Regions from separate parts of the Homo sapiens genome. Here region 2 is linked to region 1. The links come from fine-mapping of genetic effects on gene expression. A gene starts in region 1. The other region holds a variant in brackets. All regions are shown on one strand. Distances are from middle to middle. Region 1 holds the start of MRPL28 (mitochondrial ribosomal protein L28). Region 2 overlaps AXIN1 (axin 1).

What was found. PIP is the estimated chance that this variant, and not a neighbour inherited with it, causes the effect. A credible set is the group of variants that fine-mapping cannot tell apart.
Region 2: its variant is the best candidate, but not a certain one, in a credible set for the expression of MRPL28 in whole blood (TOPMed, PIP 0.75).

The regions. Positions count from the first base shown.
Region 1 is chr16:359,990-374,603 of GRCh38, reverse strand. It overlaps MRPL28 (mitochondrial ribosomal protein L28), which reads left to right and starts at 4,066. Exons shown (of 6, transcript NM_006428.5): 1 at 4,066-4,105; 2 at 4,379-4,673; 3 at 5,384-5,536; 4 at 5,969-6,103; 5 at 6,190-6,276; 6 at 6,822-7,635. The coding sequence starts at 4,386. The coding sequence ends at 6,929. It overlaps PGAP6 (post-GPI attachment to proteins 6), which reads left to right. Exons shown (of 13, transcript NM_021259.3): 10 at 205-383; 11 at 453-599; 12 at 1,877-1,993; 13 at 2,321-3,816. The coding sequence ends at 2,617. RefSeq lists enhancers at 1,765-2,336, 9,884-10,390, 10,391-10,897, 10,898-11,405, 12,034-12,881 and 1 more.
Region 2 is chr16:288,382-302,560 of GRCh38, reverse strand. AXIN1 (axin 1) reads left to right here. Exons shown (of 11, transcript NM_003502.4): 6 at 4,310-4,839; 7 at 5,335-5,505; 8 at 8,843-9,073; 9 at 11,264-11,371; 10 at 12,954-13,121. Among named protein-coding and RNA genes, the nearest start is that of PDIA2, 12 kb to the right of the region's middle. The variant G/A (reference allele first, on the strand shown) is at 9,736.

The DNA.
Region 1 (14,614 bases):
CCCCACCAACAATCCGTCTGCCTGGCACAGGCACCAGGTATCCCCGGGGGGTGGTACTGCCTCCTGACCTTGGACCCCGCCCGCCGTGCCTACCCTGCTTGCTCCTGGGTGAGGAAGGGGCTTCTCTGCAGGGTCCTGGGTGAGGGGTGGGCCCTGAGGTTCAGCAGTGCCCCCAGCCTCCGCGTCGGGGTTTTGTGACCGCAGGCTGGCGTGGGTGGAGCTGCACGGACAACAGCACAGCCCAGACGGTGGCCCAGCAGAGGGCGGCCACACTGCTGCTCACGCTCAGCAACCTCATGTTCCTGGCCCCCATCGCCGTCTCAGTGCGGCGATTCTTCCTGGTGGAGGCCTCCGTCTACGCCTACACCATGTTCTTCTCCACGGTAGGCTGGCCCCTCCTGCAGGGATGTGGGGTGGGAGGGCAGGACCGCGCTCATGGAGCCTCCCCACAGTTCTACCACGCCTGCGACCAGCCCGGGGAGGCGGTGCTGTGCATCCTCAGCTACGACACGCTGCAGTACTGCGACTTCTTGGGCTCCGGGGCGGCCATCTGGGTCACCATCCTGTGCATGGCACGGCTCAAGACAGTCCTGAAATACGTGAGTGGCCCTCGACGTGGGGTGTGGGCTCCGGGGGAGCAGGGCCCCCAAGTGCAGCCTGCGAAAGGCAGTACCGTGGGAGAGGCCGGACCTGGCGTTGGGCACGGCCCCTGGAAACCTCACATCTCGGCCGAGCATGGTGGCTCACACCTGTAATCCCTAGGCCGAGCATGGTGGCTCACACCTGTAATGCCTTGGCCGAGCATGGTGGCTCACACCTGTAATCCCAACACTTGCAGGAGGATCCCATGAGGCCAGGGGTTCAAGAGCAGCCTGGGCTGTACAAAAAATCGAAAAGTTAGCCGAGCGTAGTGGTACATGCCTGTGGTCCCAGCCACTCGGGAGACTAAGGTGGGAGGATCGCTTGATCCCAGGCATTGGAGGCGTTGGAGTGAGCCGAGGTCACAGCACTGCACTCCAGCCTGGGTGACAAAAGAAAAGAAAAGAAACCTCATGTCTTCTGTGATGCCACACGGAGATGCGGGTCTGAGACCCCGCAGGCAGTTGTGAGGGGGCAGTGCCAGCTGTTTGGAGGATGCCAGGAAGGAAGGTGGTAGGCAGGGGAGGCCAGGCCCCCTGCCTTCGAGAAGCCCCCACCCATGCTCCCTGGGTCCTTGGGGCCAATGATGCTTTGGGGACTCTCTGTGGCAGCTGGCCCTGGCAAGGGGAGACTCATGCCCTGGGCTTGTGAGCTGCATGCTCTGCCCTCCCATCTGCTCTGGGAACTGCAGGCTGGGTACTGCCCCAAGGGGGTGCCCATGGGAGCCCCACAGCCAGGGCAGAGGGGAGGCTGGGAAGCACCAGGGTCCTGCAGGGCTGAGTGCGGGGCCTGAACCTGCAGATAGGCAGAGAACTGTAGGCTGTGGGCAGAGGTGTCTGATGGAGACTGGGGGGTGGGAGCCCCTCCCCATGGAACAGTGGGTGGGAGACTGAAGCCACCCTGATGGGGGACTTCTAGAAACCCAGTGGTACAGGGGGCTAGTGAGTGTGTGGGTGCAGAGCGGCCATATGCGTCTGTCCAGTTTGTGTGAGCATCGTCTAATCCCCCAGAGATGCCTGCCTGGCCACATTCACCTGTGGATGCAATACAGAAGCTGAAGGAGGGGCATGTCCCTGCCGGCTGGCAGAGCTAGTCAGAGGCTGGCAGAGCTGGTCTGAGGGTGGCAGCAGCTCCGAGGGGGCAGGCAGAGGTGCTGTGGGGCCGTGGGGTACGCGTGCTCCTGCTGGGCCTTGAGCCCTCAGAGACGTCCCTGCAGTCATCCCTGTGTCTTGCGCAGGTGCTGTTTCTTCTGGGTACACTGGTCATCGCCATGTCCTTGCAGCTGGACCGCAGGGGCATGTGGAACATGCTGGGGCCCTGCCTCTTTGCCTTCGTGATCATGGCCTCCATGTGGGTAAGGAGCCGGGCTGGCTGGCACTGCTGCCCAGGTGCTCGGAGAAGAGAGCCTGGCCCCTTGCTCTAGCCACGTTCCTGGTCCTGCTCCAACCAGTGAATGCCCATATCTGCTGGGGGTTGCCATGGCACCCACAGAGGCCCAGCATGGCTGTGTCCCTGAGGCCTGGGCCTGAGGACCAGTGGCCTTGAGCCCCCTCGAAGCAGCCCACCCTTGTCGTTCTGCTGCCCAGACCTGGGCAGGCCCCCAGTAACCACCGTATCTGGGCCCTGGGAGCTGCAGCCGCGGCCCCACCTGCACTGATACCTGCGTGGCTGTTTTCTCCAGGCTTACCGCTGCGGGCACCGGCGCCAGTGCTACCCCACCTCGTGGCAGCGCTGGGCCTTCTACCTCCTGCCCGGCGTCTCTATGGCCTCTGTGGGCATCGCCATCTACACCTCCATGATGACTAGCGACAACTACTACTACACCCACAGCATCTGGCACATCCTGCTGGCCGGGAGCGCAGCCTTGCTGCTGCCGCCACCTGACCAGCCCGCCGAGCCCTGGGCCTGCTCGCAGAAATTCCCCTGCCACTATCAGATCTGCAAGAACGATCGGGAGGAACTGTACGCAGTGACGTGACACTGGCCTGGGGACAGCTGCTGCTCTGATGACCTCTTCAGCCAGGAGCTGTATCGAGGGGGAGGCGCCTGGTCCAGCCCTGGACAGATTGATTTCCAGCTGAATAAATTGGCCTAGATACCCTCTTACTTCCTCCTACTGAGGAGAGGGCCACCCCTCCCTCACACGCACCTCTCCTCGCCAGCTGCCTGCTCGCTGCTGAGATCCCTCTGCAGATCCCAGCTGCTGTCTGCAGTGGCCCCTGGGGCCTGGGCTTGGTTACTTGGAGACCACAGGTGCCTGTGCGAGGGTGGGGCTGTGTGCTCTGCTGGCCTGTGGGTGGCTAGAGATGGGGAGAAGGACTCCCTATGGTCCTGTTCCCTGGCGAGGCTGTGGTGAGACCCATGGCGCCCAGGAGCCCTGAGCCCACCACTGGGGCCGGGAGCTGTGGACTCCGAGACCCCTGCTCCTGGCCCCTGTGTGGCCCTGATGCCAGCCTGCCTGGGGCATGGAGGATCCCCCTCTGCTGCTGTGGTCACCATAGGGACGGGAGACGGAGGTTTCCCCCAGAGCTGATGGGCACTGGGGATGCAGGCTCCCGCCCCGCCCCTCCCTTTTTCCTGGCTCTGGAGCCTTGGGTCCCTGAGAAGAGCTTCCTTGGACTGGGGTGCTCTGCTGCTCTGGGGGTTTGGCCCAGAAGGAACCCCTACCCAGCCCTGTCCACCCACCCCAGCGTTCCTGGGCCCCCCTCTGGGAGCTTCCTCTTGGTCCCAGGAGCTGCGGTGGTGTCTGCCCCCTGCACTGGGCTCTGTGCCCTGTGGGTGTTCAGGAGACTGGACTGTCTCTGCTCCTCATGCAAACCTTGTGGGGGAAGCAATGACCAGGAGCAGCACCTGGCCCCTCCCTGAGGCCTGTGAGTGTCTCGGATCCGCCCTGGAGAAGTGAGTGGCTGAGACCCGGGTGGGGCCCTCCTACCCTTGGCTCTGGGGGCTTCCCTTCTGGGTCTTGTCCGGGATATGGCCTTCCTGAAGGTCTTACCTCCCCCAGCCGCCCTGCACTTGACCACCAAAGCAATCTCTAAGCTTATAAAGGAGAAACATATATATATGGGGTTTTTTGGAGTAAAGGAAAATTCTAAGATATTAAGACATATTTTTATGTAGATCTGATCTATCTGTGTTTGGTGAATTTAATATTCTACATTGATTTTTCAAACTAAACGAGTTTTTACATTTTTTCTGTGCTCCTTCCCGGGTAGGGTAAGTGGGGCCCGGGAGAACAAGCACCGCCCCGCCCGTGCCGCCCTTCGCGGAAACGCCGGGGCCGCACGTAGCTAACGGTGCCTTGAGCTGCTGCTGCTGTATGTGGGGTGTTTTTTACGGTCCCTAAAGACGGAAGCGGGGCGGGACGAGGGGGTAGACGGATGGCTTTTACAGCCAGTCAGCGGTGGGAGGAGGGCCAGGCGCGGCAGATCGGCTTCCGGTTCCGGTGGGCTCTGAACCCTGAAAGGTGGGCGCGGGCAGGTGGGGTGTGGGGGGGCGCCGGGGCAGAAGGGGAGGGGCAGGTGGGTGCGGGACAGGGGCCGGAGTGAGAACCGGGGGCCGGGGTAGGGGGTAGCGGGTGAGAGCCGGGGGCCGGGGTAGCGGGTGAGAGCCGGGGGCCGGGGTAGCGGGTGAGAGCCGGGGGCCGGGGTAGCGGGTGAGAGTCGGGGGCCGGGGTAGGGGGTGAGTGCCGGGGGCCTGGCCAGGCTGCGACTGACTGCGAGCCCCCACCTCCCGCCAGGCTCGCGATGCCTCTACACAAGTATCCCGTGTGGCTCTGGAAGCGGCTGCAGCTGCGGGAGGGCATCTGTTCCCGCCTGCCCGGCCACTACCTGCGCTCCCTGGAGGAGGAGCGGACGCCCACTCCCGTGCACTATAGGCCTCATGGGGCCAAGTTCAAGATCAACCCCAAGAACGGGCAGCGGGAGCGTGTGGAGGACGTGCCCATTCCCATCTACTTTCCCCCCGAATCCCAGCGGGGGTTGTGGGGCGGCGAGGGCTGGATCCTGGGCCAAATATATGCCAACAACGACAAGGTGGGTCCGCAGGCGGCCTTCAGGGGCTCCTCTCAGGGCTTGGCTGTGCCGGCTCTGTGCCGGACGCCCGGGGTACCTGGAGAGACCTGGGTGGGCCCTGGGGATTACAGCCTGGAGGCGACACATCTCCGGCAAAGGAGCACGCTGAGTGAAGAACCGCAGTTCTGGCAAACAGGACTGATAAAGTAGGGGTGAGGTGGGGTGACTCAGGCCGGGGGAGCAACCAGAGGCCGTGGGGAGTCGGGGTAAAGTTAGGATGGGGAGGAGGCCTGTGTGATGAGCAGAGCAGGTGGGAGAGGCGAGCAGAGCAGGTGGGGGAGGCGAGCAGAGCTTCGAGGCTGCTTGTGGTGGACTTCCTGGCGGGACTGCTGAAGCCTGTGGGGAGACTTGTGTCACCTCCAGGTTGGAATGTGACAACCTGTAAACTGTGGGGTCGCACATGTTTCTGAAACACATGCAGCAACCATGTGACCAGGGCGGGAACGCCCAGCTTGTTGGGGAGCAGCTGACTTCTGGGTACACAGTCAGGACCCGGGTCGGGCTGGGGCGGCACTGGGCTGGGGGCCGGCCCAGTTAGCTCTAGGTCCCCAGTCTGACAGCAGTGGTTCTGTGATGGAGCCTCCGGGGGGGAGGTGAGGGCAGTTGCCTGGGCCCCCCTTGGTATGTAAGAGAAAGCAGCAGTACTCATGGAGGCTCTGTTGCACCCTCAGCTCTCCAAGAGGCTGAAGAAAGTGTGGAAGCCACAGCTGTTTGAGCGAGAGTTCTACAGTGAGATCCTGGACAAGAAGTTCACAGTGACTGTGACCATGCGGACCCTGGACCTCATCGATGAGGCTTATGGGCTCGACTTTTACATCCTCAAGGCAAGCGGGGTGGGGCGAGTCAGTGCACACAGGGTCTGGGATGGGCCAGTCAGACTCACGGGAGCCCCAGGTCAGCATCACACCGGGGCACGCTGACATCTGCACAGGAGGGTCACTGGGAAAGCGTGAGTGGGGCCATGCCCCTTTCTGGCCAGCACCAGTGGGGTTTCCTGCCTTCAGGAGAGGCTGTCGCTCTGTGGGTGGCTGACTTGCCCGTGGGGCCTGAGCGAGCACAGCCGCCCCTTTCCCTGCACTTGGACTTGCTTCTGTGCTGATCCCACCCCCCAGGCTGGGGTGCTGAGGCGGCCCCACCCGGGCCTTCTCTGTCCTGTCCTGGGACCACCAGCGGCTAGAGAGGAGCCAGGTGGGTTGGCTGGAAGGGTAGGTGGGGCCCTGCCACCAGCACCTGGCCCCATGTGAGCCTTCTGCCAGACCCCGAAGGAGGACCTGTGCTCCAAGTTTGGGATGGACCTGAAGCGAGGGATGCTGCTGCGGCTTGCCCGGCAGGACCCCCAGCTGCACCCCGAGGACCCCGAGCGGCGGGCAGCCATCTACGACAAGTACAAGGTGAGGGTTTCCGTCCCGCTCCCTACACCTGGGGACTCGTGGCCCGGCCCTGGGCCTCACTGCCCTTTCCATCTCTGCCTGCCTAGGAATTTGCCATCCCAGAGGAGGAGGCAGAGTGGGTGGGCCTCACGCTGGAGGAGGCCATTGAGAAGCAGAGACTTTTGGAGGAGAAGGTGAGTGTGTGAGCACCAGCCGATGCTGCCTGCCCAGAGCCTGGTGTTCAGGGTCTGGGAGTGTGCTGCCTTGGAGAGAGCCTGCACAAGGGGCTGGTGCACTGGGTGGGCTTGGGGAAGAGCTGCTGCTCTGCATTGCCCACCCAGAGGAGCATGGCCCGCTCCCTCCCCTCCAAGTCCCCACCCTGTTCTGTCCCAGGACCCTCAGTAGGAGGAGTGGGTTCCTGCACTGAGGGTTTGCTCGGCCACCAGCATCCCAGGGTCTGGAGCCTGAGGTAGCTGTCAGGACAGGGAGCCCCTGATGGCATGGCAGCTGGCTGCCCCTATTCCCTCTGTTTATCCATGACCACAGGGATGGGACAGGGGTATGTGTGTGCCTCCGGCATCCCCAAGGGAGGGGGTTCCTCATCTCACCGACAGGACTCTGCCCTCCAGGGCCTCTCATGCCCCGGTTCCTCTGGGCGGCAGCTGCTGATCCCATCCCCGTCGGAACTCCAGCTGCCCTGGGCTTCCCTGGCCTCACCATGAGCCCCTCTCTCCTTCAGGACCCTGTACCCCTGTTCAAGATCTATGTGGCGGAGCTGATCCAGCAGCTGCAGCAGCAGGCACTGTCAGAGCCGGCGGTGGTGCAGAAGAGAGCCAGTGGCCAGTGACCACACAGCTCCTCCATGCCTGACCAACAGGCCCAGCTTTCCCTGCCAGGCCCTTTGCACTGAGGACACAGATCCCGGGGAGCTGTGAGGGCCACCGGTGGGCAGTGGGTGGATCCTGGTTTCGTGTGCTGCCCATGCACCTTCCAGCCCGGGGCCAGCTTGGCAGGGATCCCCAGGAGGCCTGGGCCGCCCAGAGGCTCCTCTCAGGCTGGGCCCCGACGTTTGCGGCAGTGTTCCTTGTGCCCGTGGGGCCGGGAGCGAGTAAAGTCTGGGCCAGGCTGTGTGTGTGTATCTTTGCTTTGAGGACTGGTGTTCTCTTTGGGGATCCTGATCCTGTCACCCCTGCCCTTGCTGCCCCTGAGACCTCGGATGAGCCGTGGGCATTGACTCTGGCTGTGCCCGTCCCCCGGTGAGCTGCAGAGAGCGAGGTTCAATTCTGTGTTTTGTGTTTTTTTTTCTTTTCTTTTTTTGAGACGGAGTCTTGCTCAGTCACCCAGGCTGGAGTGCAGTGGCACGATCTGGACTCACTACAACCTCCACCTCCAGAGTTCAAGTGATTGTCCTGTCTCAGCCTCCTGAGTAGCTGGGATTACAGGCACCCCGCTATCATGTATGGCTAATTGTATTTTAGTAGAGAAGGGGTTTCACCATGTTGGCCAGGCTGGGCTTGAACTCCTGACCTCAGGTGACCCACCTGCCTCAACCTGCCAAAGTGTTGGGATTACAGGCGTGAGCCACCTCCCCTGGCCGTATTCTGTGTCTTTCTTTCCTCTGGTAGAGGGTCTGGTGTAGCTGGGGGCATCCAGGGGTGCAGCCGGATGATGCCCATTCCCTCTCCATTGCACATTCCTGCCCTTCTCGAACATTCTTCAGAGCAGGGCAAGGGAGGCTGTGGTCTGGCTCTGCAGGTACTGGAAGGAACCAGGAGGGGCAGGCCCTCAGAGGGCCGTGCTGGTGCAGCTGCCTGAGTCAGGAGCCTCTCCCTGGTCAGCACTGTTGTGGCGAGTGGTAGAGGAGGTGGGGGCGACACGAACTTGGGGACCTGCGACCTTGGTGTCCCCTCCTGCTACCTCCACCTGACCTGCAGGGTGGAGGTTTGGCCAGCGGGAAGCCGGGCTGTGCACCCTAAGGCATTTCCCGCCCTGAGGTTTTGGGGGTACCTGACCCTCTCCCCCAACCCTTACCTGGAAATCCTGATCCTCCGGACCCATTCGGTTTTCCCAGGGAGCACAGAGGGAGGGCTCCCCCAGCTGCATGTGCAGAATGACAAGGGGGGGTTTATGTCCCCTGAGCCTAAGCCAGCCCCAGCTGGTGGCAGGATGGGGTGAACTGGAGGCAGCTGCCTGACGTGGGCCTGCTGGCTGATTGAGGGGCCCCTGGCTCCCAAGGGGGCTGTGGCAGAGTCCAGAGGGAGTCTGCAGTTGGCCCTGCTGGACTGCAGGGGAGCACGTGGCTCCCGGGGCCGCAAGGGGTCCCTGGGGTCAGGACCTGCCTGGTTCAGAGCCCTGGGAGGGCCCCCGAGGTCTCTTTCCACACCGGGCACCTCTGCCGACATGTCCTGCTGCTCCCCACACCAGTGCCTTCATGTGATGCCCCTGCTCTGTGAACGACCTTGAAAAAAATTTTAGGCCAGGCACGGTGGCTCACACCTGTAATCCGAGCACTTTGGGAGGCCGAGGCGGGTGGATCACGAGGTCAGGAGATAGAGACCATCCTGGCCAACACGGTGAAACCCCATCTCTACTAAAAATACAAAAAATTAGCTAGGCATGTTGACACATGCCTGTGATCTCAGCTACACGGGAGGCTGAGGGAGGAGAATCGCTTGAACCTGGAAGGCAGAGCTTGCAGTGAGCTGAGATTGCACCACTGTACTCCAGCTTGGGTGACAGAGCGAGACTCTGTCTCAAAAAGAAAAAAAAAAAGGCCGGGCGCAGTGGCTCACGCCTGTAATCCCAGCATTTTGGGAGGCCGAGGCGGGCGGATCACGAGGTCAGGAAATCGAGACCTAACACGGTGAAACCCCATCTCTACTAAAAATACAAAAAAGTTAGCTGGGCATGGTGGCAGGTGCCTGTAGTCCCAGCTACTCGGGAGGCTGAGGCAGGAGAATGGCATGAACCCGGGAGGTGGAGGTTACAGTGAGTGGAGATCGCACCACTGCACTCTAGCCTGGGCGACAGAGCGAGACACCGTCTCAAAAAAATAAATAAAAATCATACCGGGCACTGTGGCTTACACCTATAATCCCAGCACTTTGGGAGGCTGAGGCAGGCAGATCACCTGAGGTTAGCAGTTCAAGACTAGTCTGGACAACATAGTGAAACCCCCATCTCTACTAAATACAAAAATTTAGCCGGGTGTGGTGGCGCACACCTGTAATCCCAGCTACTTGGGAGGCTGAAGCAGGCGAATTGCTTGAACCCGGGAGGTGGAGGTTGCAGTGAGCCACGATTGCACCATTGCACTCCACCTGGGCAACAAGAGCAAAACTCTGTCTCAAAAAAAAAACACTTTATGAAAAACAGACAGTGCTCAGTCAGCTCTGTGGGGCCATGAGGCTCAGCCCAGCTGCCCACAGCATGAGTGCTGTTCCGTGCCCCAGCTCTAGCCAGAGTTGGGATGTTGTGGCCACGCCCTGCCCTGCACAGTTCCCGTGTTCAGCTGTGAACTTAAGCCAAGCCCCCTCCAGCCCCTCGGCCTGCCCCTGACTCCCTGATGGTGTGTGTGTCCAGCACCTCCCAACTCAGGCCTCGGTGGCTGCCCCTCACTCACCACCTGCTCTTTCCCACCCCAACCAAGCCCCACGGTAAGCAGGGCTCCTGCCAAGGCCTGTAGGGCTTCCTGGGTCAGACTCTGGGGGCCCCAAGAAGTTAGGGGCCAGGCTTGGCAATGGGCTGGTAGGCGCTGGCCTCGGTCCCCCTGTCGGCCATGGTGGCACGTGCTTATCAGTGTGTCCTGACTTGTGTTGACTCAGGGTTGTGGGTTTGGGACCAGGCTACCAGCTGGCCAGTGGGAGAAGCTGCATTTGGCCTCAGCAGGTTACCTCCTCTGCCAGTCACCTCGATGGAACCCATGGCTGTTTAGTCCTCCCGCAGGGGAGGCCAGGCCAGACTGAGGTGGGGTCTGGGTGTGGCCAGGGCCCTGACAACTTTCTGGTCAGAGGCCACAAAAGTCCTTGACTGAGAAAAAGGTAAGAGGCCTTCCGTAAATGCCGGACCCATCCCTCAAGACCAAACCGTGACTCAGGTCTGGGACAGACCCAGCAGCTGGATCCAGCATGCTATTCTGCCTTCTGGGTTGTGGGGAGGGGTCCCAGGGACTGTACCGGCTCCAACATGTGTGTGGGGAACTGAGAACTGAGCTGGGAGCCCGGGCAGCCAACCTGGGAATGGCTGCTGGCCACCCCTCCCCGCCCTCCCCGCCCTCCCCACGCCCACCCCGCCCTCCCCGCGCCCACCCCACCCCTTCCCTGCCCTCCCTATGCCCACCCCACCCCTTCCAGAGCCAGGCCGGGCTGGGGCCACCAGACCCTCCTTCTGCCATCCTCACCAATCACACCTGTCAGGCTCCTTCCTGAAGTGTTGGACTCCGTCTCTGAGAACGGCCAGTTCTCCCTCACTGAGGCGTGCAGACCCTCAGGCACCTGGAGTGGGAGAGGGATCTGTGCAGAGCAAGATCAACCCCACAGGAGGCAGAGCTGCCCTGGGCCGGCCTGCACCAGCCCCAGCCTCTCGGAGCCCTCAGGGGCCAGGAGTTCCCCACGCGTGTCCCAGGCTTGGCAGAGGCCATGTGTTTCCATGACAACAGTCAGCCGCGGTGTCGGGCAGAGAATGGGCTGTGGACCTGAGGGTGGACTCCGGGGTGGACCCTCACGGCTATGGGCAGGGATCCCTTGGGGGTAGAAAACTGGAGGACTGGAAGGGGTGTCAGTGACCCCATCACTCCACATAGAGACGGGGAAGCCAAGGCCAGGAAGGGTAGGGTGGAGTGGATGTGAGGCTGGCCTGAGGCACCCAGTCACAAGTCCATGTCTGACCCCTGACCCCAAGGGTCTCGCCTGCTTCCTGAGTCCTGCTCAGGTGCACAGAGCAGCAGGATAGTGGAGGGAAGGGCATGGAGAGCGGGCGGGCCCTCTGGGTCGCTTGGCAACTCTGCTCCTGTCCTGTGCCCCCGTCAGGGTGCTGGGAGCCCAAGGGAGCTGCCGGGAGACCACTGTGTGTCCCGCGGGCCTGCTTAGGGCTCCGCCTCCACCTTCAGTCCTTGGCCGCCCTCGCCCTCTCACCAGTGCCCGTCTGTAACTCCAGCCCTCTGCTGGCCCCAGGCACGGGCTGGATTGTGTGGGGCTCCCAGGCTCCCTTGAGTCCCTGTCCCTCTGACACCCACCAGCCACCCAAGCTGGAACCCTGGCCACATGGCCACACCCAGCAGCCTGGGCTCCCGTGCGGTCCTGGCTCCCTCTGCCGCAGCGCCCCGCAGCCCTCCCTAGGCGGGCTCCAGCCTTGGACCATCCTCCCTAACCACTGCCTGCTGTCCTGGGATGGTGTCCCTACCCACATCCTGTCCCCAGACAAGCTGGTAGCTCTGAGCATGGCATGGGAAGGGCTTCAAGGCCGGGTTCCATCCTGGGACAGGCGGCTCACAACCAGGCCAGTGCGAAGAAGCTTGGATCCGGACCCAGAGTCCTGGGGGAGCAGCCGCGGCCCGAGACCCCCGGCGCCCAGAGTCCTGGGGGAGCAGCCGCGGCCCGAGACCCCCGGCGCCCAGAGTCCTGGGGGAGCAGCCGCGGCCCGAGACCCCCGGCGCCCAGAGTCCTGGGGGAGCAGCCGCGGCCCGAGACCCCCGGCGCCCAGGCCCATGCCAAGCCCGGTTCCCTGGGACTGGCCCCGAAGTCGCTCTCTTGAAGGTGGATCCCCATGGACCATGCTCCAGGCTCCCCTGGATCCCGGGTCCCTCTGATGGCCTTGGTAGTGGCCTCCCTGGGCTGCAGCAGCCCAAGGCTCTCGCTTGCTCCTTGCAGTCCTGCAGCTGTTCATCACCAGATTCTGCTCATCGGGTGCTGGGCCTGGGCCAGGAAGTGGGACTCAGCTTCCCGGGCTTAGGGGAAGCCTTCGAAGGGGTCTTGGCCAGGCAGTGCTGCTGTCAGAGCGCGTGGACAAGCCAACACTGTTTCTGGCTGTCACGGGGCTGGGGGCAGGGGGTGGTTCCGGGGATGCTCAGTGCCCTGCAGTGCCCAGGATGTCCACGGGTGACGGTTGAGAAGCCTCGTCTCCAGACATACGGGAAAGCTTTGCCAGGGGCCAATGCTGGTGCGCCCTGGAGGGAAGAGGCGTTCTTGGGACGCAAGAGGGCACTGCAGCCCAGGGGAGAGCGGGTGCAGCCGCAGGTGTGTGACTGATGGCGAGACGGTCTCCTCAGTGTGGCCAAAGACCCAGAGTCCTGCCCAGTGGGAACCCAAGGTCCAGGGAGCAAGGCCTCGGGAGGGGCCTCAGGGGGCTTGTGAGACGGGACTGTGTGAGCACGTGCACGTATTCCACAGGCCGCAGCTAACGAGAGGGTGGCGGAGTGGACTGTGGGCGGAGAGAAAGCTGGCAGCCTTTGCCGTCTGAGGTGGGCGAGAGCTTGGCTCTGCCCAGTGGGGCTGGGAAGTTCTCCCTGCTCCCGCTTCCACTGCTCCCACCCTTTATTTTCCCACCAGACTGGGCCTGGCCTTCAGCCCCTGAGGCAAGCCTGACCTGAAGTCCTCCTCTCAGCAGGGGCTGCAAGGCCAGTGCTTCTGCCTCTGCTGGGGGTAAGGCAGGGCACAGAGTGGCCCCGGACAGGCCAGGAGAGGGGCAAGGACCCCACACACTGGACATGAATGAAACACACGGAAACGCTTAACAGCTGTTGTGGGGACAGCTACCATGCAGCCATGCCCACCTCGTTCCTCCAAGGGGACCCTGGCATGGGCCCACGGGCAGTGCCGCCTGCTCCCTCAGCAGTCAGGAGTGGCTCGGGGGTGGCGGTGTCTAAAGGGGCTGGTTGCCATGGCTACCATAGGGTTCTGAGGCCCGTCATCTGGTCCCTGCCTCAGCCAATCGGCGGCAGGAGCCCGAGCTGCAGCCCAGAGTCACGCTTCTGCCTCCCAGCCACACAGTGGCCAAGAGCAGGGACCTGCTTCCCAGAGTGGCTGAAAGTGCTCGGACGGACGGCCAAGCCCATCATGGCGGACAGCGGGACGGTGGGGCGTGAGCAGGCACACGGAGCCAGGCAGGTGAGGTAAGCCGGGCAGGCGGCCGGGCGGACAGGTGGACGCGCCTCCTCTGCCCATTGTTCTCGCGGCTGCGGCCCTGCCCTCGGCCCACCCCACCCTCGAGTGCAAGCCCACACGCAGCGCCCGCACCCTCACCCTCAGACCCTCTCCGGGTGTCCCGAGGAAGGGTCAGGGGAAGAGACAAAGGGAGCAGGGTGAGGCAGGATGAATCCTGACGGACCTCGGACCCCAAAACCGCCCCGGTGGGTCTTCCACGTCAGGTTTCACATGGAGGCGGCATCAAAGACCCCCGACTGATCCAGGCCGGCGTCCCGGCCGCCACTCCAAGGTTAGGAGACAAGCCATGTCAAGTCGGTGCCGTTTAAGCAGCATTTTTTCGAGGAGAAAAAAAAAAAAGAAACAGAAGCGATATAAAGAAAAAAAATGTCCACCTATGACACGGGAAGCGGCCAGCCCGATGGATCAGAAGCGCCAAATCCCATTACTCGGGACTTCAGGGACAGGCCCTGCAAGGGCAGCTGCGATTAAGAGCTTGTCAATGGACTCTCCTTTAGAGATCAAAGCGGGGCGTGCTTGTGTGTGTGTGCGTGTGCACGTGTGTGCGCGTGCACGCGTGTACGTGCAGGAGCGGACACTGTGGGGTGACAGCACAGAGGTCGTGCACCGCAGCACCACGGGGCCCATACGTCGCCGACGCGGCCACCTCCACACTGCTTGCGTCCTTGCTGCCGTGTGCGACGTGTGTGGACGCGGCTGGGGGCCTGGGCCGGGTACCTGGTCCCAACACCTGCACCCTTTCAAAGGCCTCCACCTCCTGCTAGAGGCCGTGCCTTCCCCAGGTTCTGCCCAGAGGAGCCCGCAGGGGCCGAGCTGGGTGTGAGGACAGCCGTGGCTGCGTCTCCTCCCCCCGACCACGTCCTGCTGCCCACAGAGGCCTTGAGCTCTCAGTTGGCCTGGCAGGCGCGCCCTGGGGGTTCAAAGCTCCCGTTGACACGATTGTTAGGTTATTAGGTAAACTCTGAGACGTAAATCTTTTAATCCACTGTGGCTAATCCGGTTCACTTTTGTTTGCCACGACAGACGCCGCGGCGACAAAGGGGCCTGGGGCCCAGCACACACAGTCACACGCTCAGAACTTGGCCGCGGCCTCAGGGTTCCTAGGCAGTGGAGAGAGACATCTTGGGACAGCCAAGCAGAGGGAGGCGGCGGAGGGCACAGGTGGGCGGGGGCGCAGGTGGGCCGGGGCAAAGGCAGCTGCCCGCTGGGGGCCGCACTTCCTCACCTCCCATTTAATGTCCCCTTGCCAGCTCGAGGGGGAACCGCTGGGCACTGGGGTGTGCAGGTATCGGGGCCGCTGGGGATAGTGGGCAGAAGGACAGATGAGCACCAACGGGGGGGCGGCAGCGCCCGGAGAGGCGTGTGGGATGGA
Region 2 (14,179 bases), 72 kb after region 1:
CCATTGAGATGGCAGGCAGACCTTACATAGCTCGTTGAGCAGCTGGGATTCATGGCGGGGACCAGGTGTGGTCGCTGCAGATGGTGGAGCTCCCCATGAAGGGGTTTGTGTGGAAATGTCTCACACACAGACGTCGATTTGTTTTATCCTCAGTAAATTGTTTTGCCACCATGTGGAGCTGCATCCTCTCGTCTCCCCTGGCCGTTGGTCTGAGGGTGACCCTCATCTGGGTAGGGCACAGGTGTGGGTGGTGCCAGCTCCAGGGCTCTGCAGGTGCCAAGTTCACCTTCTCCACAGTCCCCCAAGGAAAGGACTCAGGGAATTTGTCCTCCAATATCGGGAACCTAGCCGGGGCCGCAGGGCTGGCAGGAGCAGCATCAGTGCCGCGTGGTCCCTGTGGCGGTGAGAGTGAGGCCTCGCCTTGCAGACCTGGTGGTCACTGGAGCGGCTCGCTTGCTTCCTGGGGTGGCCCTGAGGAGGCTGGCTGTGCGCACCTGAGGCCAGCGGCATTGGGGCCTGCCTGGGAGCCTTACTGGGCTGTTGTCTGAAAACCAAACATTGGGAACAGAGTTACCAAGAATATGGACATGTCCGCAGGCCACATCCGGGCCCACGGGCTGTGACGTCAGCATCATCATTTGGGTGGCAGGTGAAGGTTAGCAGCCCTTAAACAAACATGCTCACAACAGAAACGTAAGAAAGGAAGCCTTTGCTGTTTTGCTGCCGTGTTGGCCGCTGTCATTTTCTGCAGAAGCCTTTGCTGTTTTGTTGTTGTGTCGGTCGCCGGCCGCTGTAATTTTCTGTGGAACGCTTTGCTGTCATGTTGGCCGTCTGTAATTTTCTGATCTTTGCGCCTTCACCCGTTCGCAGGGTGTGCTTCTAGTAGGGCAGGTTCCCATTTTGAGTGAGACATTTTTTAAAAAAAATATTTTTGTAGAGATGGAATCTTGCTATATTACCCACACTGGTCTTGAACTCCTGGCCTCAAGTGATCCTCCTACCTCAGCTTCCCGAAGTGCTGGGATTTCAGGCACGAGCCACCGTGCCTGGCCTTAAGCAAGACATGTTAAAGGCAGGCGTAGCCACAGGTGCTGAGTGTGTGGCTCTCACCTGTGACTCTCAAGGCTTCCCCACCCCATGGAGTCCTGGCTCTGTCCCAGCAACAGGGAGCATGGCAGTGCCCACAGGTGTGTGGATCCAGCACCACCAGGGCCCAGGAGTGGTGGTCCTTCCCTAAAAGGAATAACTCCAGTTTTTTTTTTTTTTTTGCTTTGTTTTGTTTTGTTTTTTGAGGCAGAGTCTCGCTCTGTCGCCCAGGCTGGAGTGCAGTGGCACGATCTCAGCTCACTGCAAGCTCTGCCTCCCGGGTTCACGCCATTCTCCTGCCTCAGCCTCCCCAGTAGCTGGGACTACAGGCGCCCACCATCACGCCCGGCTAATTTTTTTGTATTTTTAGTAGAGACGGGGTTTCACCATGTTAGCCAGGATGGTCTCGATCTCCCGACCTTGTGATCCACCCGCCTCGGCCTCCCAAAGTGCTGGGATTACAGGCGTGAACTCCAGATTTTTTAAATAACCTATTTTCATTGTGAAATTTGGGAAATTAAAGCACAAAGAAGAAAACAAAAACCATTAGCCGAGTGGTTAAGTTAATCTGTAACATTTCACAGCCCCATGATAGAATTCCTGCCGATGTGGAGCTCGGCCAAGGCAGTGAACGGCATCAAAACTCCAAACACTTTTAGTCCCTAGGAAGACCCTCGGTTAAGATTTCTCCCCAGAGTGCCCGGGCCCTTTAGTCCTACAAAACCAAGGAAAGGGAGGCAGCATAGCTGCATCCGCCAGGGGATGCCCACCACCCACCTGTCCCCCGGCTCTGCTCCAGCATCCGTCTGTCCTCTTTAGTGCCATATTTCACCCTCAGCCCCAGTGCAGGTGCCCGCAGCCAAGCCCACACCAGCTCTGGGGCACGCCTGTTCCAGTTGCATTTGGATACTTTTGCAGGTGTGAGAGTTGGGTGCTAAACGTTGGGAGGTTTGTTTATATTAAAATATAGAGGTAGGTGGGGCACAGTGGCTCACATCTGTAATCCCAACACTTTGAGAGGCCAAGACAGAAGGATCACTTGAGGCCAGGAATTTAAGAGCAGGTTGGACAACATAGTGAGATTCCCCATCTCTACAAAAAAAAAAGAAAAAGAAAAAATTAATGGGACATGGTGGCATGCACCTGTAGTCCCAGCTACTTGGCAGGCTGAAGCAGGAGGATCGCTTGACCCCTGGAGGTTGAGGCTGCCTTGAGCTGTGATGGCACCACTGCGATTAGGTGTGGTGGCTCACACCTGTAATCCTAGCACTTTGGGAGGCCAAGGTGGGTGGATCACCTGAGGTCAGGAGTTCGAGACCAGCCTGGCAAACAGGGTGAAACCCAGTCTCTACTAAAAATACAAAAAATTTAGCTGGGCATGGTGGTGGGTGCCTGTAATCCCAGCTACCCGGGAGGCTGAGGCAGGAGAATTACTTGAACCCGGGAGGCGGAGATTGCACTACAGCCTGGGACACAAGAGTGAAACTCCGTCTCAAAAAAAAATTAAATAAATAAAAATAGGCCGGGCACGGTGGCTCACACTTGTAATCCCAGCACTTTGGGAGGCCGAGGTGGGCAGATCACGAGGTCGGGAGATCGAGACCATCCTGGCTAACACGGTGAAACTCCATCTCTACTAAAAATATAAAAAATTAGCCGGGCGTGGTGGCGGGCACCTGTAGTCCCAGCTACTGGGCAGGCTGAGGCAGGAGAATGGTGTGAACCCGGGAGACGGAGGTTGCAGTGAGCCGAGATCGTGCCACTGCACTCCAGCCTGGGTGACAGAGCGAGACTCTGTCTCAAAAAAATGAAAATAAATAGGCCGGTTGTGGTGGCTCACTCCTGTAATCCCAGCACTTTGGGAGGCCGAGGGTGGTGGATTACCTGAGGTTAGGAGTTTGAGACCAGCCTGGCCAACATGGTGAAACCCCGTCTCTACTAAAAATACAAAAAAATTAGGCAGGCATGGTGGCACACTCCTATAATCCCAGCTACTCGGTAGGCTGAGGCAGGAGGATTGCTTGAGCCCGGGAGGTGGAGGTTGCAGTGAGCCAAGATCGTGCCACTGCACTCCAGCCTGGCTGACAGAGCGACTCTGACTCTAAATAAATAAATACATACATAGATACATGGTAACTTAGTTCCCTCTCTTTCTTTTGTATTGACACCAGATTTACTCAATACTGTTTTAGTTTGTCAGTCCAATAAGATGAGAAAATAAGTATGAGATGCAACTTGGAATTAAAGTGATCAAATGTTTGCTCTGACAGATAAGCTTCAGCACCTGTTAACTTGGAGAATCAAGTGAAACTCCACCGGCTTCATGTGGAAGCTCGTCAGGCAGCATCACAACATGTACATAACCCAAGAGCCGTTCTGTACAAGGTTCTCCTTAAAATATAATGGGAGGCCGGGCGCGGCGGCTCATGCCTGTCATCCCAACACTTTGGGAGGCCGAGGTGGGTGGATCATGAGGTCAGGAGTTCGAGACCAGCCTGGCCAACATAGTGAAATCCTGTCTCTACTAAAAATACAAAAATTAGCTGGGTGTGGTGGCGCACACCTGTAGTCTCAGCTACTTGGGAGGCTGAAGGAGGAGAATCACTTGAACCCAGGAGGCAGAGGTTGCAGGGAGCCGAGATGGCACCATTGCACTCCAGCCTGGGTAACAGAGCAAGACTCTGTCTCAAAAAATATATATATATACAGGCCAAGGCAGGCAGATTGCTTGAGCTCAGGCATTCGAGACCAGCCTGGCCAATATGGTGAGAATCGCATCTGTCCCCAAAGTACAAAAAAATTAGCTGGGCGTGGTGGCACACGGCTGTGGTCTCCGCTATTCTGGAGGCTGAGGTGGGAGGATCGCTTGAGCCTAGGAGGCGGAGGCTGCAGTGAGCTGAGATCACACCACTGTTCTCCAGCCTGGGCAACAGAGCAAGAACTTGTCTCAAAAAAAGAATAAAACTAAACTAAATCTGTGCAGAGCTCTGCCCACAGCCGATACATACGCTGCATTCCTTGAGGCCTTGCTGTCTCCGCTCCTTCTGTCTATGCCCCGTCCTGCCTCTCCATCCTCAGGGACAGGACCGGTGGCGAGGGGCCCCCGGCCACCCTGGGCTGGGACGGCATCTGCTGGGGCTGCTGGGTCAGGCCTGATGCTTTTTGTTTTCCCCAAGTGTGCAGCTGGTGCTGAGAGGTGATGGTGCTGCTTGTCCCCACACAGGAGGAGGAAGGTGAGGACGGCGATCCATCGTCAGGGCCCCCAGGGCCGTGTCACAAGCTGCCTCCCGCCCCCGCTTGGCACCACTTCCCGCCCCGCTGTGTGGACATGGGCTGTGCCGGGCTCCGGGATGCACACGAGGAGAACCCTGAGAGCATCCTGGACGAGCACGTACAGCGTGTGCTGAGGACACCTGGCCGCCAGTCGCCTGGGCCTGGCCATCGCTCCCCGGACAGTGGGCACGTGGCCAAGATGCCAGTGGCACTGGGGGGTGCCGCCTCGGGGCACGGGAAGCACGTACCCAAGTCAGGGGCGAAGCTGGACGCGGCCGGCCTGCACCACCACCGACACGTCCACCACCACGTCCACCACAGCACAGCCCGGCCCAAGGAGCAGGTGGAGGCCGAGGCCACCCGCAGGGCCCAGAGCAGCTTCGCCTGGGGCCTGGAACCACACAGCCATGGGGCAAGGTCCCGAGGCTACTCAGAGAGTGTTGGCGCTGCCCCCAACGCCAGTGATGGCCTCGCCCACAGGTGAGCGTGCGCCTGTCAGTGAGGAGGGGGCTTGGGGTGAGGCTGTGTCCCTGCAGAAGGCCAGAACCTCCTCATAAAACTCAGGAAACCCAGGACCGCCAGCAACAGGCAGGAGGCCCCTCTGCTGGAGGGAGTGGACTGGGCCCTGGGTCAGGGGAGTCCACGCCGTGACCTCAGGTGGGAGATGAAGGTTAGGGGACACAGCCCGACCCTGGCTCCCGCTCTGGCCCTCAGTCTTCAGGGGGTGAGCAGTGACTGCCTGTGTGTTTAGAGAGGAAACCAACCCCCAGACAGCACCAGGACAGCGGGCAGGGGACAGCGGGTGGGGGACAAGCTGGCGGGGGACAGCGGGTGGGGGACAAGCGGGCAGGGGACAGCGGGCGGCGGCTGCACCACGGGAGCCTTACAGATGCCAGGAGGGGGCCTCGCAGACGAGGAAGGGGCACAGCCTCGGCCACCGGAGGCCAGGGCGACTCGCAGCTCTTGCCCTTGCAGTGGGAAGGTGGGCGTGGCGTGCAAAAGAAATGCCAAGAAGGCTGAGTCGGGGAAGAGCGCCAGCACCGAGGTGCCAGGTGCCTCGGAGGATGCGGAGAAGAACCAGAAAATCATGCAGTGGATCATTGAGGGGGAAAAGGAGATCAGCAGGCACCGCAGGACCGGCCACGGGTGAGCACCCCGCACGCAGCCAGCCTCGTGGGGCCTGCTTTGCCACCCCTGGCCTCCGCACAGTCTCAGTGTGTGCAGCTTCAGTGTGTGTGGCGAGTGTCGCCTGTGACGCCTCACACTTCCCCTGTCACTGTGGCACCCTCCCGGGCACCCTCCAGCAGGCTCCCTGGGCCCCACGTCTCCAGGAGGAAAACCTCATGTCCCCAGAGAGAGGCTGTCCCTGAAGCCCCGAGCAGGAGGGAAGCTGACGTGGCTGTCACCCCGCAGGCAGCACAGATGCTCTCGGGAGGTCATTTCCAGTCTGACCCCCACATGAGAATGACCTAAGTCACCTGGGAAGGCCCCCACTGACCATCACTCCCGAGGTGCCCACGGAGGAGCCTTCTGTGCTCACACCTGGCCGTCCTGCTGAGGGCTGGGGAAGGCTCTTGTGTAGCGTGAGCACTTCTCTCCTCCCAGAAGGGCAGAGGCCTCGTGTGTGGTGTGGAGCAAGGCCCCGGCGCCACAGGTCCAGCCCCTGCCGCTGCCCGCCGGGCCGGTCTTGGTGTTGCTCCTGCTCGCCCCCTGGGCCTGCACTCGTGCCCGGAACCCAGCAGGAGGGCCAGGGGCCCCACAGAGGTGGTACCCCCCACCTTCCTGTCGTGGTCAGAGGCAGGTCAGCTGGGAAGTGTTGGCCCTGGTGGGTGGATGGCCCCAGCTTCCTCAGACTTAGGTCCTGATCTGCCCCCCACCCTCACCCAGGCCCTGGCCAGGACGCATCTCCCTCCACATTACTTGATGAGAACTTGTGAGGCAGCTGAGCGCCTGGGGCGTGGCCCTCCTGCCTGTGTTGGAAGCCTGTCCCGCAAGGCCTTGGGGTCCCCATCGGTGCTGACTGAGGTGGGGACGGGCTCATCGTTTTTCTGGGGCTCCCGAGGGAACAGGGGTGCACAGCACCTTGCCTGGCTCATTTTTTGTAGAGGGGGTCTCAGTGTGTTGCCCAGCTGGGTCTCAAGCTTTTGGGCTCAAGTGATCCTCCCACCTTGGCCTCCCAAAATGCTGGGACTACAGGCATGAGCCACCATTCCTGGCCTTCGAGTCTTTTTTTTTGAGACGGAGTCTAGCTCTGTCGCCCGGGCTGGAGTGCAGTGGTGCAATCTTGGCTAACTGCAACCTCCACCTCCTGGGTTCAAGCAATTCTCCTGCCTCAGCCTCCCGAGTAGCTGGGATTACAGGCGTGAGCCACCACGCCCGGCTGATTTTTGTATTTTTAGTAGAGACCGGGGCAGGGGGTGGTTGCCATGTTAGGCTGATCTCGAACTCCCAACCTTTGGTGATCCGCCTGCCTCGGCCTCCTGGAGTGCTAGGATTACAGGCGTGAGCCACCGTGCCCGGCCGAATCCTTTTTTTAAATAGCTGTATATACTAAATATTGCATGTCCCATATTTTAGGATAAGTATTAATACATTCCACTTTGAGACATACTTATACTTTTTATTCATTAAGACTTTTTTTTTAATTTTTTGCGACAGAGTCTCCCTCTGTCACCCTGGCTGAAGTGCAGTGGTGTAATCACACCGTTCACTGCAGTCTCAGCCTCCTGGACTCAAAGCTATCCGCCGGCCTCTAGGATTAGTATATAATTTGTATCCCAGTAAAGCTGTTAAAAATAAAATGTAAAAAAAGAAGCCTCATCCCAGCACTTTGGGAGGCCGAGGCAGGTGGATCGCTTGAGGTCCGGAGTTCGAGACCAGACTGGCCAACATGACAAAAACTCCATCTCTACTAAAAAAAATACAAAAAATTAGCCGTGTGTGGTGGCGAGTGCCAGTAATCCCAGCTACTCGGTGGCTGAGGCAGGAGAGTCGCTTGAACCTGGGAGGCGGAGATTGCAGTGAGCCGAGATCCGAGGTCGAGCCATTGCACTGCAGCCTGGGCAACAAGAGCAAAACTCTGTCTCAAAAAAAGAAAAAAAAAAAGTCTCCATGAAAGAATTTTTTTTTTTTTTTTTTGAGACGGAGTCTTGCTCTGTTGCCCAGGCTGGAGTGCAGTGGCCTGATCTCAGCTCACTGCAAGCCTCGCCTCCCGGGTTCATGCCATTCTCCTGCCTCAGCCTCAAGAGCAGCTGGGACTGCAGGCGCCCGCCACCACGCCCGGCTAATTTTTTGTATTTTTTTAGTAGAGGTGGGGTTTCACCGTGTTAGCCAGGACGGTCTCGATCTCTTGACCTCGTGATCCGCCCTCCTCAGCCTCCCAAAGTGCTGGGATTACAGGCGTGAGCCACCGCGCCTGGCCTTTTTTTTTTTTTTTTTTTTTTTTTGAGATGGGGTTTCGCTCCTGTGGCTCAGGCTGGAGTGCAACAGGCCAGTGTCAACGCACTGCAACCTCCACCTCCCAGGTTCAAGTGGTTCTCCTGTCTAACCCACCTGAGTAGCTGGGATTACAGGCACCCACTATTATGCCCAGTTAACTTTTTGTATTTTTGTAGAAACAGGGTTTCACCATGTTGGCCAGGCTGGTCTTGAACTCCTGACCTCAGATGATCCACCCGCCTCGGCCTCCCAGCGTGCTGGGATTACCGCGCCTGGCCATTTTTTTTTTTTTTTTTTTTTTTTGAGATGGAGTCTCACTCTTGCCTAGGCTGGAGTGCAGTGGTGCAATCTCAGCTCACCGCAACCTCTGCCTCCCAGGTTCAAGCGATTCTCCTGCCTCAGCCTCCCGAGTAACTAGAATTACTGGTATCCACCACCACACTTGGGTAATTTTTTGTATTTTTTGAGTAGAGTCATGGTTTTGCCATGTTGGCCAGGCTGTTCTTGAACTCCTGACCTCAGGCGATCCACCCACCTTGGCCTCCCAGAGTATTGGGATTACAGGCAAATGAGGGTTGGTTTTTTGTTGTCTTTTTTATTCCTGAGACTGAGCCTCACTCTGTCACCCAGGCTGGAGTGCGGTGGCGTGATCCCGGCTCACTGTAACCTCCACTTCCCCAGTTCCAGCCATTCTCGGGCCCCAGCCTCCAGAGTAGCAGGGATGACAGGCGCCCAGCTAATTTTGTATATTTAGTAGCGATGAGGTTTCACCATGTTAGGTTGATCTCGAACTCCCGACCTCTGGTGATCTGCCCGCCTCGGCCTCCCGAAATGCTGGGATTACAGGTGTGAGCCACCATGCCTGGCCGGGATGTTTTTATTGTGTGGTCTGTGGAGGACGTCCATGTGGCTTGGTGGCCAGGCCCCAGTGCCCCATCCCATCCTATCCCTCAAGGAGGCTGCCCTTGTGAGATGAGTGTAGCCCCACCAGGCCACCTGGCCAGGGTGTCGGCCACAGTCACAACTTGTTCTCTTGTTCCCCAAGGTCTTCGGGGACGAGGAAGCCACAGCCCCATGAGAACTCCAGACCCTTGTCCCTTGAGCACCCCTGGGCCGGCCCTCAGCTCCGGACCTCCGTGCAGCCCTCCCACCTCTTCATCCAAGACCCCACCATGCCACCCCACCCAGCTCCCAACCCCCTAACCCAGCTGGAGGAGGCGCGCCGACGTCTGGAGGAGGAAGAAAAGAGAGCCAGCCGAGCACCCTCCAAGCAGAGGTACGGCCGCGTCGTGGGGTGGGGTGGGTCTTGGGGGTTACCACAGCACCACTCCTGGGGCTGAAGCTCCCCGAGGCCTGAGGTCTTCAGGGGAAAAACGGCCCTCTGGGTGTCCCCCAGCCATACTGGGCCCTTCCATCCACTGAGAACCACTGAGGGGCCACGTGGCAGGCCACCCTGCGGTGGACGGAGGCTGGGGCTGGAGCTTTCACACACCCGAGGCCGCCGCGCTCATTGCTCTGGAGGCGGGGTCCCTCCTCAACCTGAGCCCAGTCTGCAGGGAGGCTGCAGGGCCCCAGTGTGTGGGGAACGCCGGTCCCCAGCCAGAGGCTGCTCGCTGCTGGGCAGCCTGGGCTTTAGGGCAGAGGTCCTGGAGGCATGGCGGCTGCCTCTTGACAGTTGCGTCCCAGGAGCCCTGAGTGGCTCTGCACGGTCGGAAAGCTACGTGGTTCTGAAAGCCGTGCAGATGTAGAAGTGTCGTCCTGGACGTCCAGCCCACAGCCCTCCTCGCTGTGTCCTCTTGTCATCCTGGATGTCCAGCCCACAGCCCTCCTCACTGTGCCCTTCTCTCATCCGGGACGTCCAGCCCACAGCCCTCCTCACTGCGCCCTCCTTGGTCTTCTGGGCTCCGTAGCCAGACCCTGTTCTCTCCCTAGGGCAGG[G/A]AGGCTTCTGTCTGGGCTGCAGGGAGGTCTCCCCTTTGTGTGGGCAGCATTTTCGCTCCAGGCCAGAACCTGGCTTCTCCATTTTCAGCTTGCTCATAAGGCCAGTTTTCTCGGCCATCCTGGGTCATTGGAATTCCCCACAGATCAGTGTCTCTTTGAGGGTCCTGGGAGCCTATAGCTCACCCAGGCCCTGGGGCTGTGGTCACAGAGGCCATGGTTGCCTTCAGAGGTCACCAGCTCCTCCTGTCCACCTTGGGTCACCTGGGGCCTGGGGTCCAGGCCCGCCTCCCGGGCCTCCAGCTTTGGGGCTGTGCCACTCCAGGGAGGCTGTGGCTAGGGGCCTTATTCTGCCGAACCAGCATCAGGGTTCAGACCCTTCCCAGCTGAAAGCCTGTGTGGTCTCAAGTCATTAAAGGTTCCTGAGCTTCTGCCAGGCTGTGAGCCTAATGACAGCTCTGGGGCCAGAAAGGGTCACAGTTACCTCAAACCCAAAGGGTGACCACTTTATGACCAAACATCTGTGACCCTGTGATCGTGTTCGGCCAACAAGGAGCTGGAGCCCCCTGCCATGCAGGAGCCTGGAGTGTGGTGCTCGGAGCCGGGGCGTGTGACTGGGCTGGCAGATGAGCCGTGGTGGGCATCGTGTGCAGCAGGTCCGAGGCCCTGGGCGTGTGTGGGCTCTCCTGCCGGGGCTTCCTGAGCCATCCTTGCTGGGCTGAGCAGGGGTCTCTCAGGTTGCGTCTGCGCTTTCCCCTGGTACCCGTGGCCCCACATGATGGCAGGGGATGCCCGCTGAGCCGTGGGACCACTCCCGCCGTTCTGAGACACGACCCTCCCGCCCGTTTGGCTGCTGGGCTCCAGCATCCCCCCATGGGGAAACCCAGAGTTGCTGGGTTTGTCCGTCCAGGGGATGTGGGTTTTTGCGAGAAGCTGTGGAGACGGAGTGAAGGCCCAGAGGCAGGTTGGGTGCTGGGCCCTGTCAGGATGTCAGAGTAGAAACCACCATCAAGGTCGCCCAGTGTACCCCGGTGGAGGTGTCCACGTGAGAGGAGCTGCTGTGCTGCCCCAGGATGGCCTCAGTTGTGGCGCCGGGGGGCCCTCAGCCTCCCTGAGGTGCAGACCGAGTTGCCACGCACGCCCCAGAGCCAGTGTCCACGCTATCGGTGGGGAATTCATGCCAAGAGACTGAAGGACAGACTCTCGGGACGAGATGTCATCCCACCAGAGGGGATGAGGTGGTGGGATCCCAGCACCCCTGATCGGAAGCTCCCCAAAGTGCGGTCCAGGGAACTCAGGGGGTTGGTGCCGGGATCATGAATGTGGGGCGCGCTGCAGTATCGGGTACCACCAAGGCAGGCCTAGGAGGGGACTCGGTGTCTTGTCTACCCTGCAAACTGGAGCCTGCGCAGGGTGGGTTGTTCGGGCCCTTCACGCTCCGTCCGTCCCTGCGCAGCAGCATTGGTCGAGGCTCCCTCCCCAGGGCTGGTGGCCGCCGGCACAGCCACCTTTGACGCGGGTTGTTCCCTAGGTATGTGCAGGAGGTTATGCGGCGGGGACGCGCCTGCGTCAGGCCAGCGTGCGCGCCGGTGCTGCACGTGGTACCAGCCGTGTCGGACATGGAGCTCTCCGAGACAGAGTACGTGCGTCCTGAGGGTCCTCCCGGTCCTGCCCACCCCAGCCCTGGCGTCCCAAGCCAGGTCCCATCGTAGAGCCGCCGTCCCGGGGCTTGAGCTCGGGTACCACGCTCAGAAGCAGCTGTGGCAGGAGAGGGTCCCGTGGCATCAGACTCGAAGCTGCCCGAGAGCCTTCTCCTGTCTCCATCAAAGGAGACGCTGACTGTCCAGCATGATGACAAGTGACCAAAAGGCCCGGCTGGAGGCCTGGGCACAGCCAGCCCCTGCATCCACACAGGTGTCACGGCCAGGCTTCCTGTGGGGCAGAGACCTGCCTGCGCCTCCACCCGGCTTGGAACGGGCCGGTCCCTGCCAGGCCTGACTTGACCAGGCTCGGGGCTGCAGGTGCTGAGGTGCCCGGGGTGCGTCTGCTTGCAGTGTGGGTCTCAGCCATGCGTGTCTGTCCAGCCCGTGCAGTCAGTGAGTCGGGGCTCTGCTCCCACCTACAATGCTGACTGCTCTGAACCCGTGAGAAAGGGCTCAGACCATGTGATCCCACATGGGCCGTGTCGACGGCGCCTTTATGTGCTCAAGGTGGCAGGAGGAGGGGGCACACCCCAAAAGGGGCCTTGAGAACAAGGGTCCCCCAGGCCTTGCCAGGCTTGCCCCAGATGCAGGTTTGTTGTGGCCCTCATCGTGTAGGCGGTCTTGGGGCAGCCTTCACCTGTCCCTGGGGCAGCCCCCACGTGTTGGCTCTTCTCTGATGGGCCTGGCTCCAGGAGGCTCCGAGGATGTGGCACTGGGAGGACGTCTAAGAGCGCACGTGGCTGGGGGCCTGGTGTGCAAAGAGGATGGTCACATGGCTCAGGTGGCCATGAGGCCTTCCTGCCCTGGTGTTGGCTCTGGAAGCCTCTGGTGCACCCAGCCAGGAGGAGGCCCAAGGGCTGAACCCCAGTGGGCCAGGGGCAGCTTCTGGAGTCACTTGAAGGACAGGTGGCGGCGGGGTAGCCGAGTGGGGGGTGCGAGAGCAACCAGGCCCCGCCCGTCATCCCGGCACGGCTGTGGAAGCACAGCACCTGTCAGAGGAGGGCCCGGCTCAGCCTGGGCAGGAGACGGTGCCAGCCCTGCCCCCTCTGAAGGGCCTGCTGGCCACCCCCGCCCCAGTCCTCCGACAAACTTCGCTGCGGGGTCAGGCTTATCCAGAAATCGTGCACAGTTCTGTTTGTCCAATCCCTGCCCTTCAGATGTTTTTAAGGTTTGGGGGCCGTAGGTCTTCCTGAGATAGGAGCCCTGCAGCCTGCCCTGCCATCCTAGAGGTGGGAGCTGCAGTGCACCTGGCAGCCAGGCCCTGGCCAGTCGAGGGTGGGGCTGTGAGGCAGCAGGGAGACCTTCGTGCTCCCAGTGAGCGGAGCCGACTCCACTGCTAGCGGACTAGATCCCAGATTGAGATGCTGTGCGGGGGCTGCGGGCCCCAGGTGTTTGAATGGGGTGCTGCTCACCCCTGCAGGCCTGCCCCGCCTTACACTGGCAGCCTGAGGCCAGCAGGAGGGACCCTGTGGGACCTCAGTCCAAAACCAGGTACCACCGCTGCATCTCTTTCCCCAGGACAAGATCGCAGAGGAAGGTGGGCGGCGGGAGTGCCCAGCCGTGTGACAGCATCGTTGTGGCGTACTACTTCTGCGGGGAACCCATCCCCTACCGCACCCTGGTGAGGGGCCGCGCTGTCACCCTGGGCCAGTTCAAGGAGCTGCTGACCAAAAAGGGCAGCTACAGGTGAGTGTGAGGGCTGGGGTGCCCCCTCCCCGCACGAGTATGTGGGTGCCCAACGGTATGAAAAAGAGGGTTTCCAGCCGGGCACAGTGGCTCACGTCCTAATCCTGGCACTTTGGGAGGCTGAGGTGGGCGGATTGCCTCAGCTCAGCAGTTCGAGACCAGCCTGGGCAACATGGTGAAACCCCGTCTCTACTAAAAATACTAAAGAAATTAGCCAGGTGTGCTACTTGGGAGGCTGAGGCAGAATTGCTTGAACTCGGGAGGCAGAGGTTGCAGTGAGCTGAGATCACGCCACTGCTCTCCAGCCTGGGTGACAGAGCGAGACTCTGTCTCTACCCCCGCCCAAAAAAAAAAAAAGAAGAAAAAGGGCTTCCGGCCATTTCAGCTCATGTCCCTCATCTGCAACTAAAGCCACTTCTCCAAGCCCTAGGCTGAGGGTGGCATCAGGCTTTCGGCCCCACAGGACTGAGAGGGTCCAAAGGGACCCCCGTCCAGGGCCCTCATCTTCGGGGTGGGAAAACAGAGGCCAGACCCCTAGACGACGATGGTCTGAACCTTGTGTTAGGCTCCCCTAGGCCGACCTTGTCTCCAGGCTCTGGACTCATGTGCTTTTGCCTGACTGAAAAGCCAAGCCCCCTCCTACCAAGGTTCATTCGCCCTGGGCCACTCAGCCCTGCAGGGCCCTGCGTGCAGCCAGCCTTGGAGGCTCCCGAGTGAGCACTGGGCGGTGAGCAGAGGGGGCCTGACCCCAAGAGCCTGGCAGAGCCTGGCGGGTGGTTCCCACCGTCCACAAGCCACTGTGCAAACACCCCATGACTGCAGATGTGGTGCTGAGGGAGGGCCCCAGTTGGGGTCACCTCCATGACGGGGCTCAGCCCTTGGGAAGCAGACACCCCACACCCGTCCACTTCCCCCCTGCAACTCCTGAGAGGCTGGGGCAGGTACTCCCAGGGGGATGTGGGGTGCTCCCAGCAGGCAGTGAACTCACCCCCCATGGCTGCCCACTTCACCCACATGTGGTCATTGCACTGTTCACTGTTGCCCTGGGAGGGGGCGCA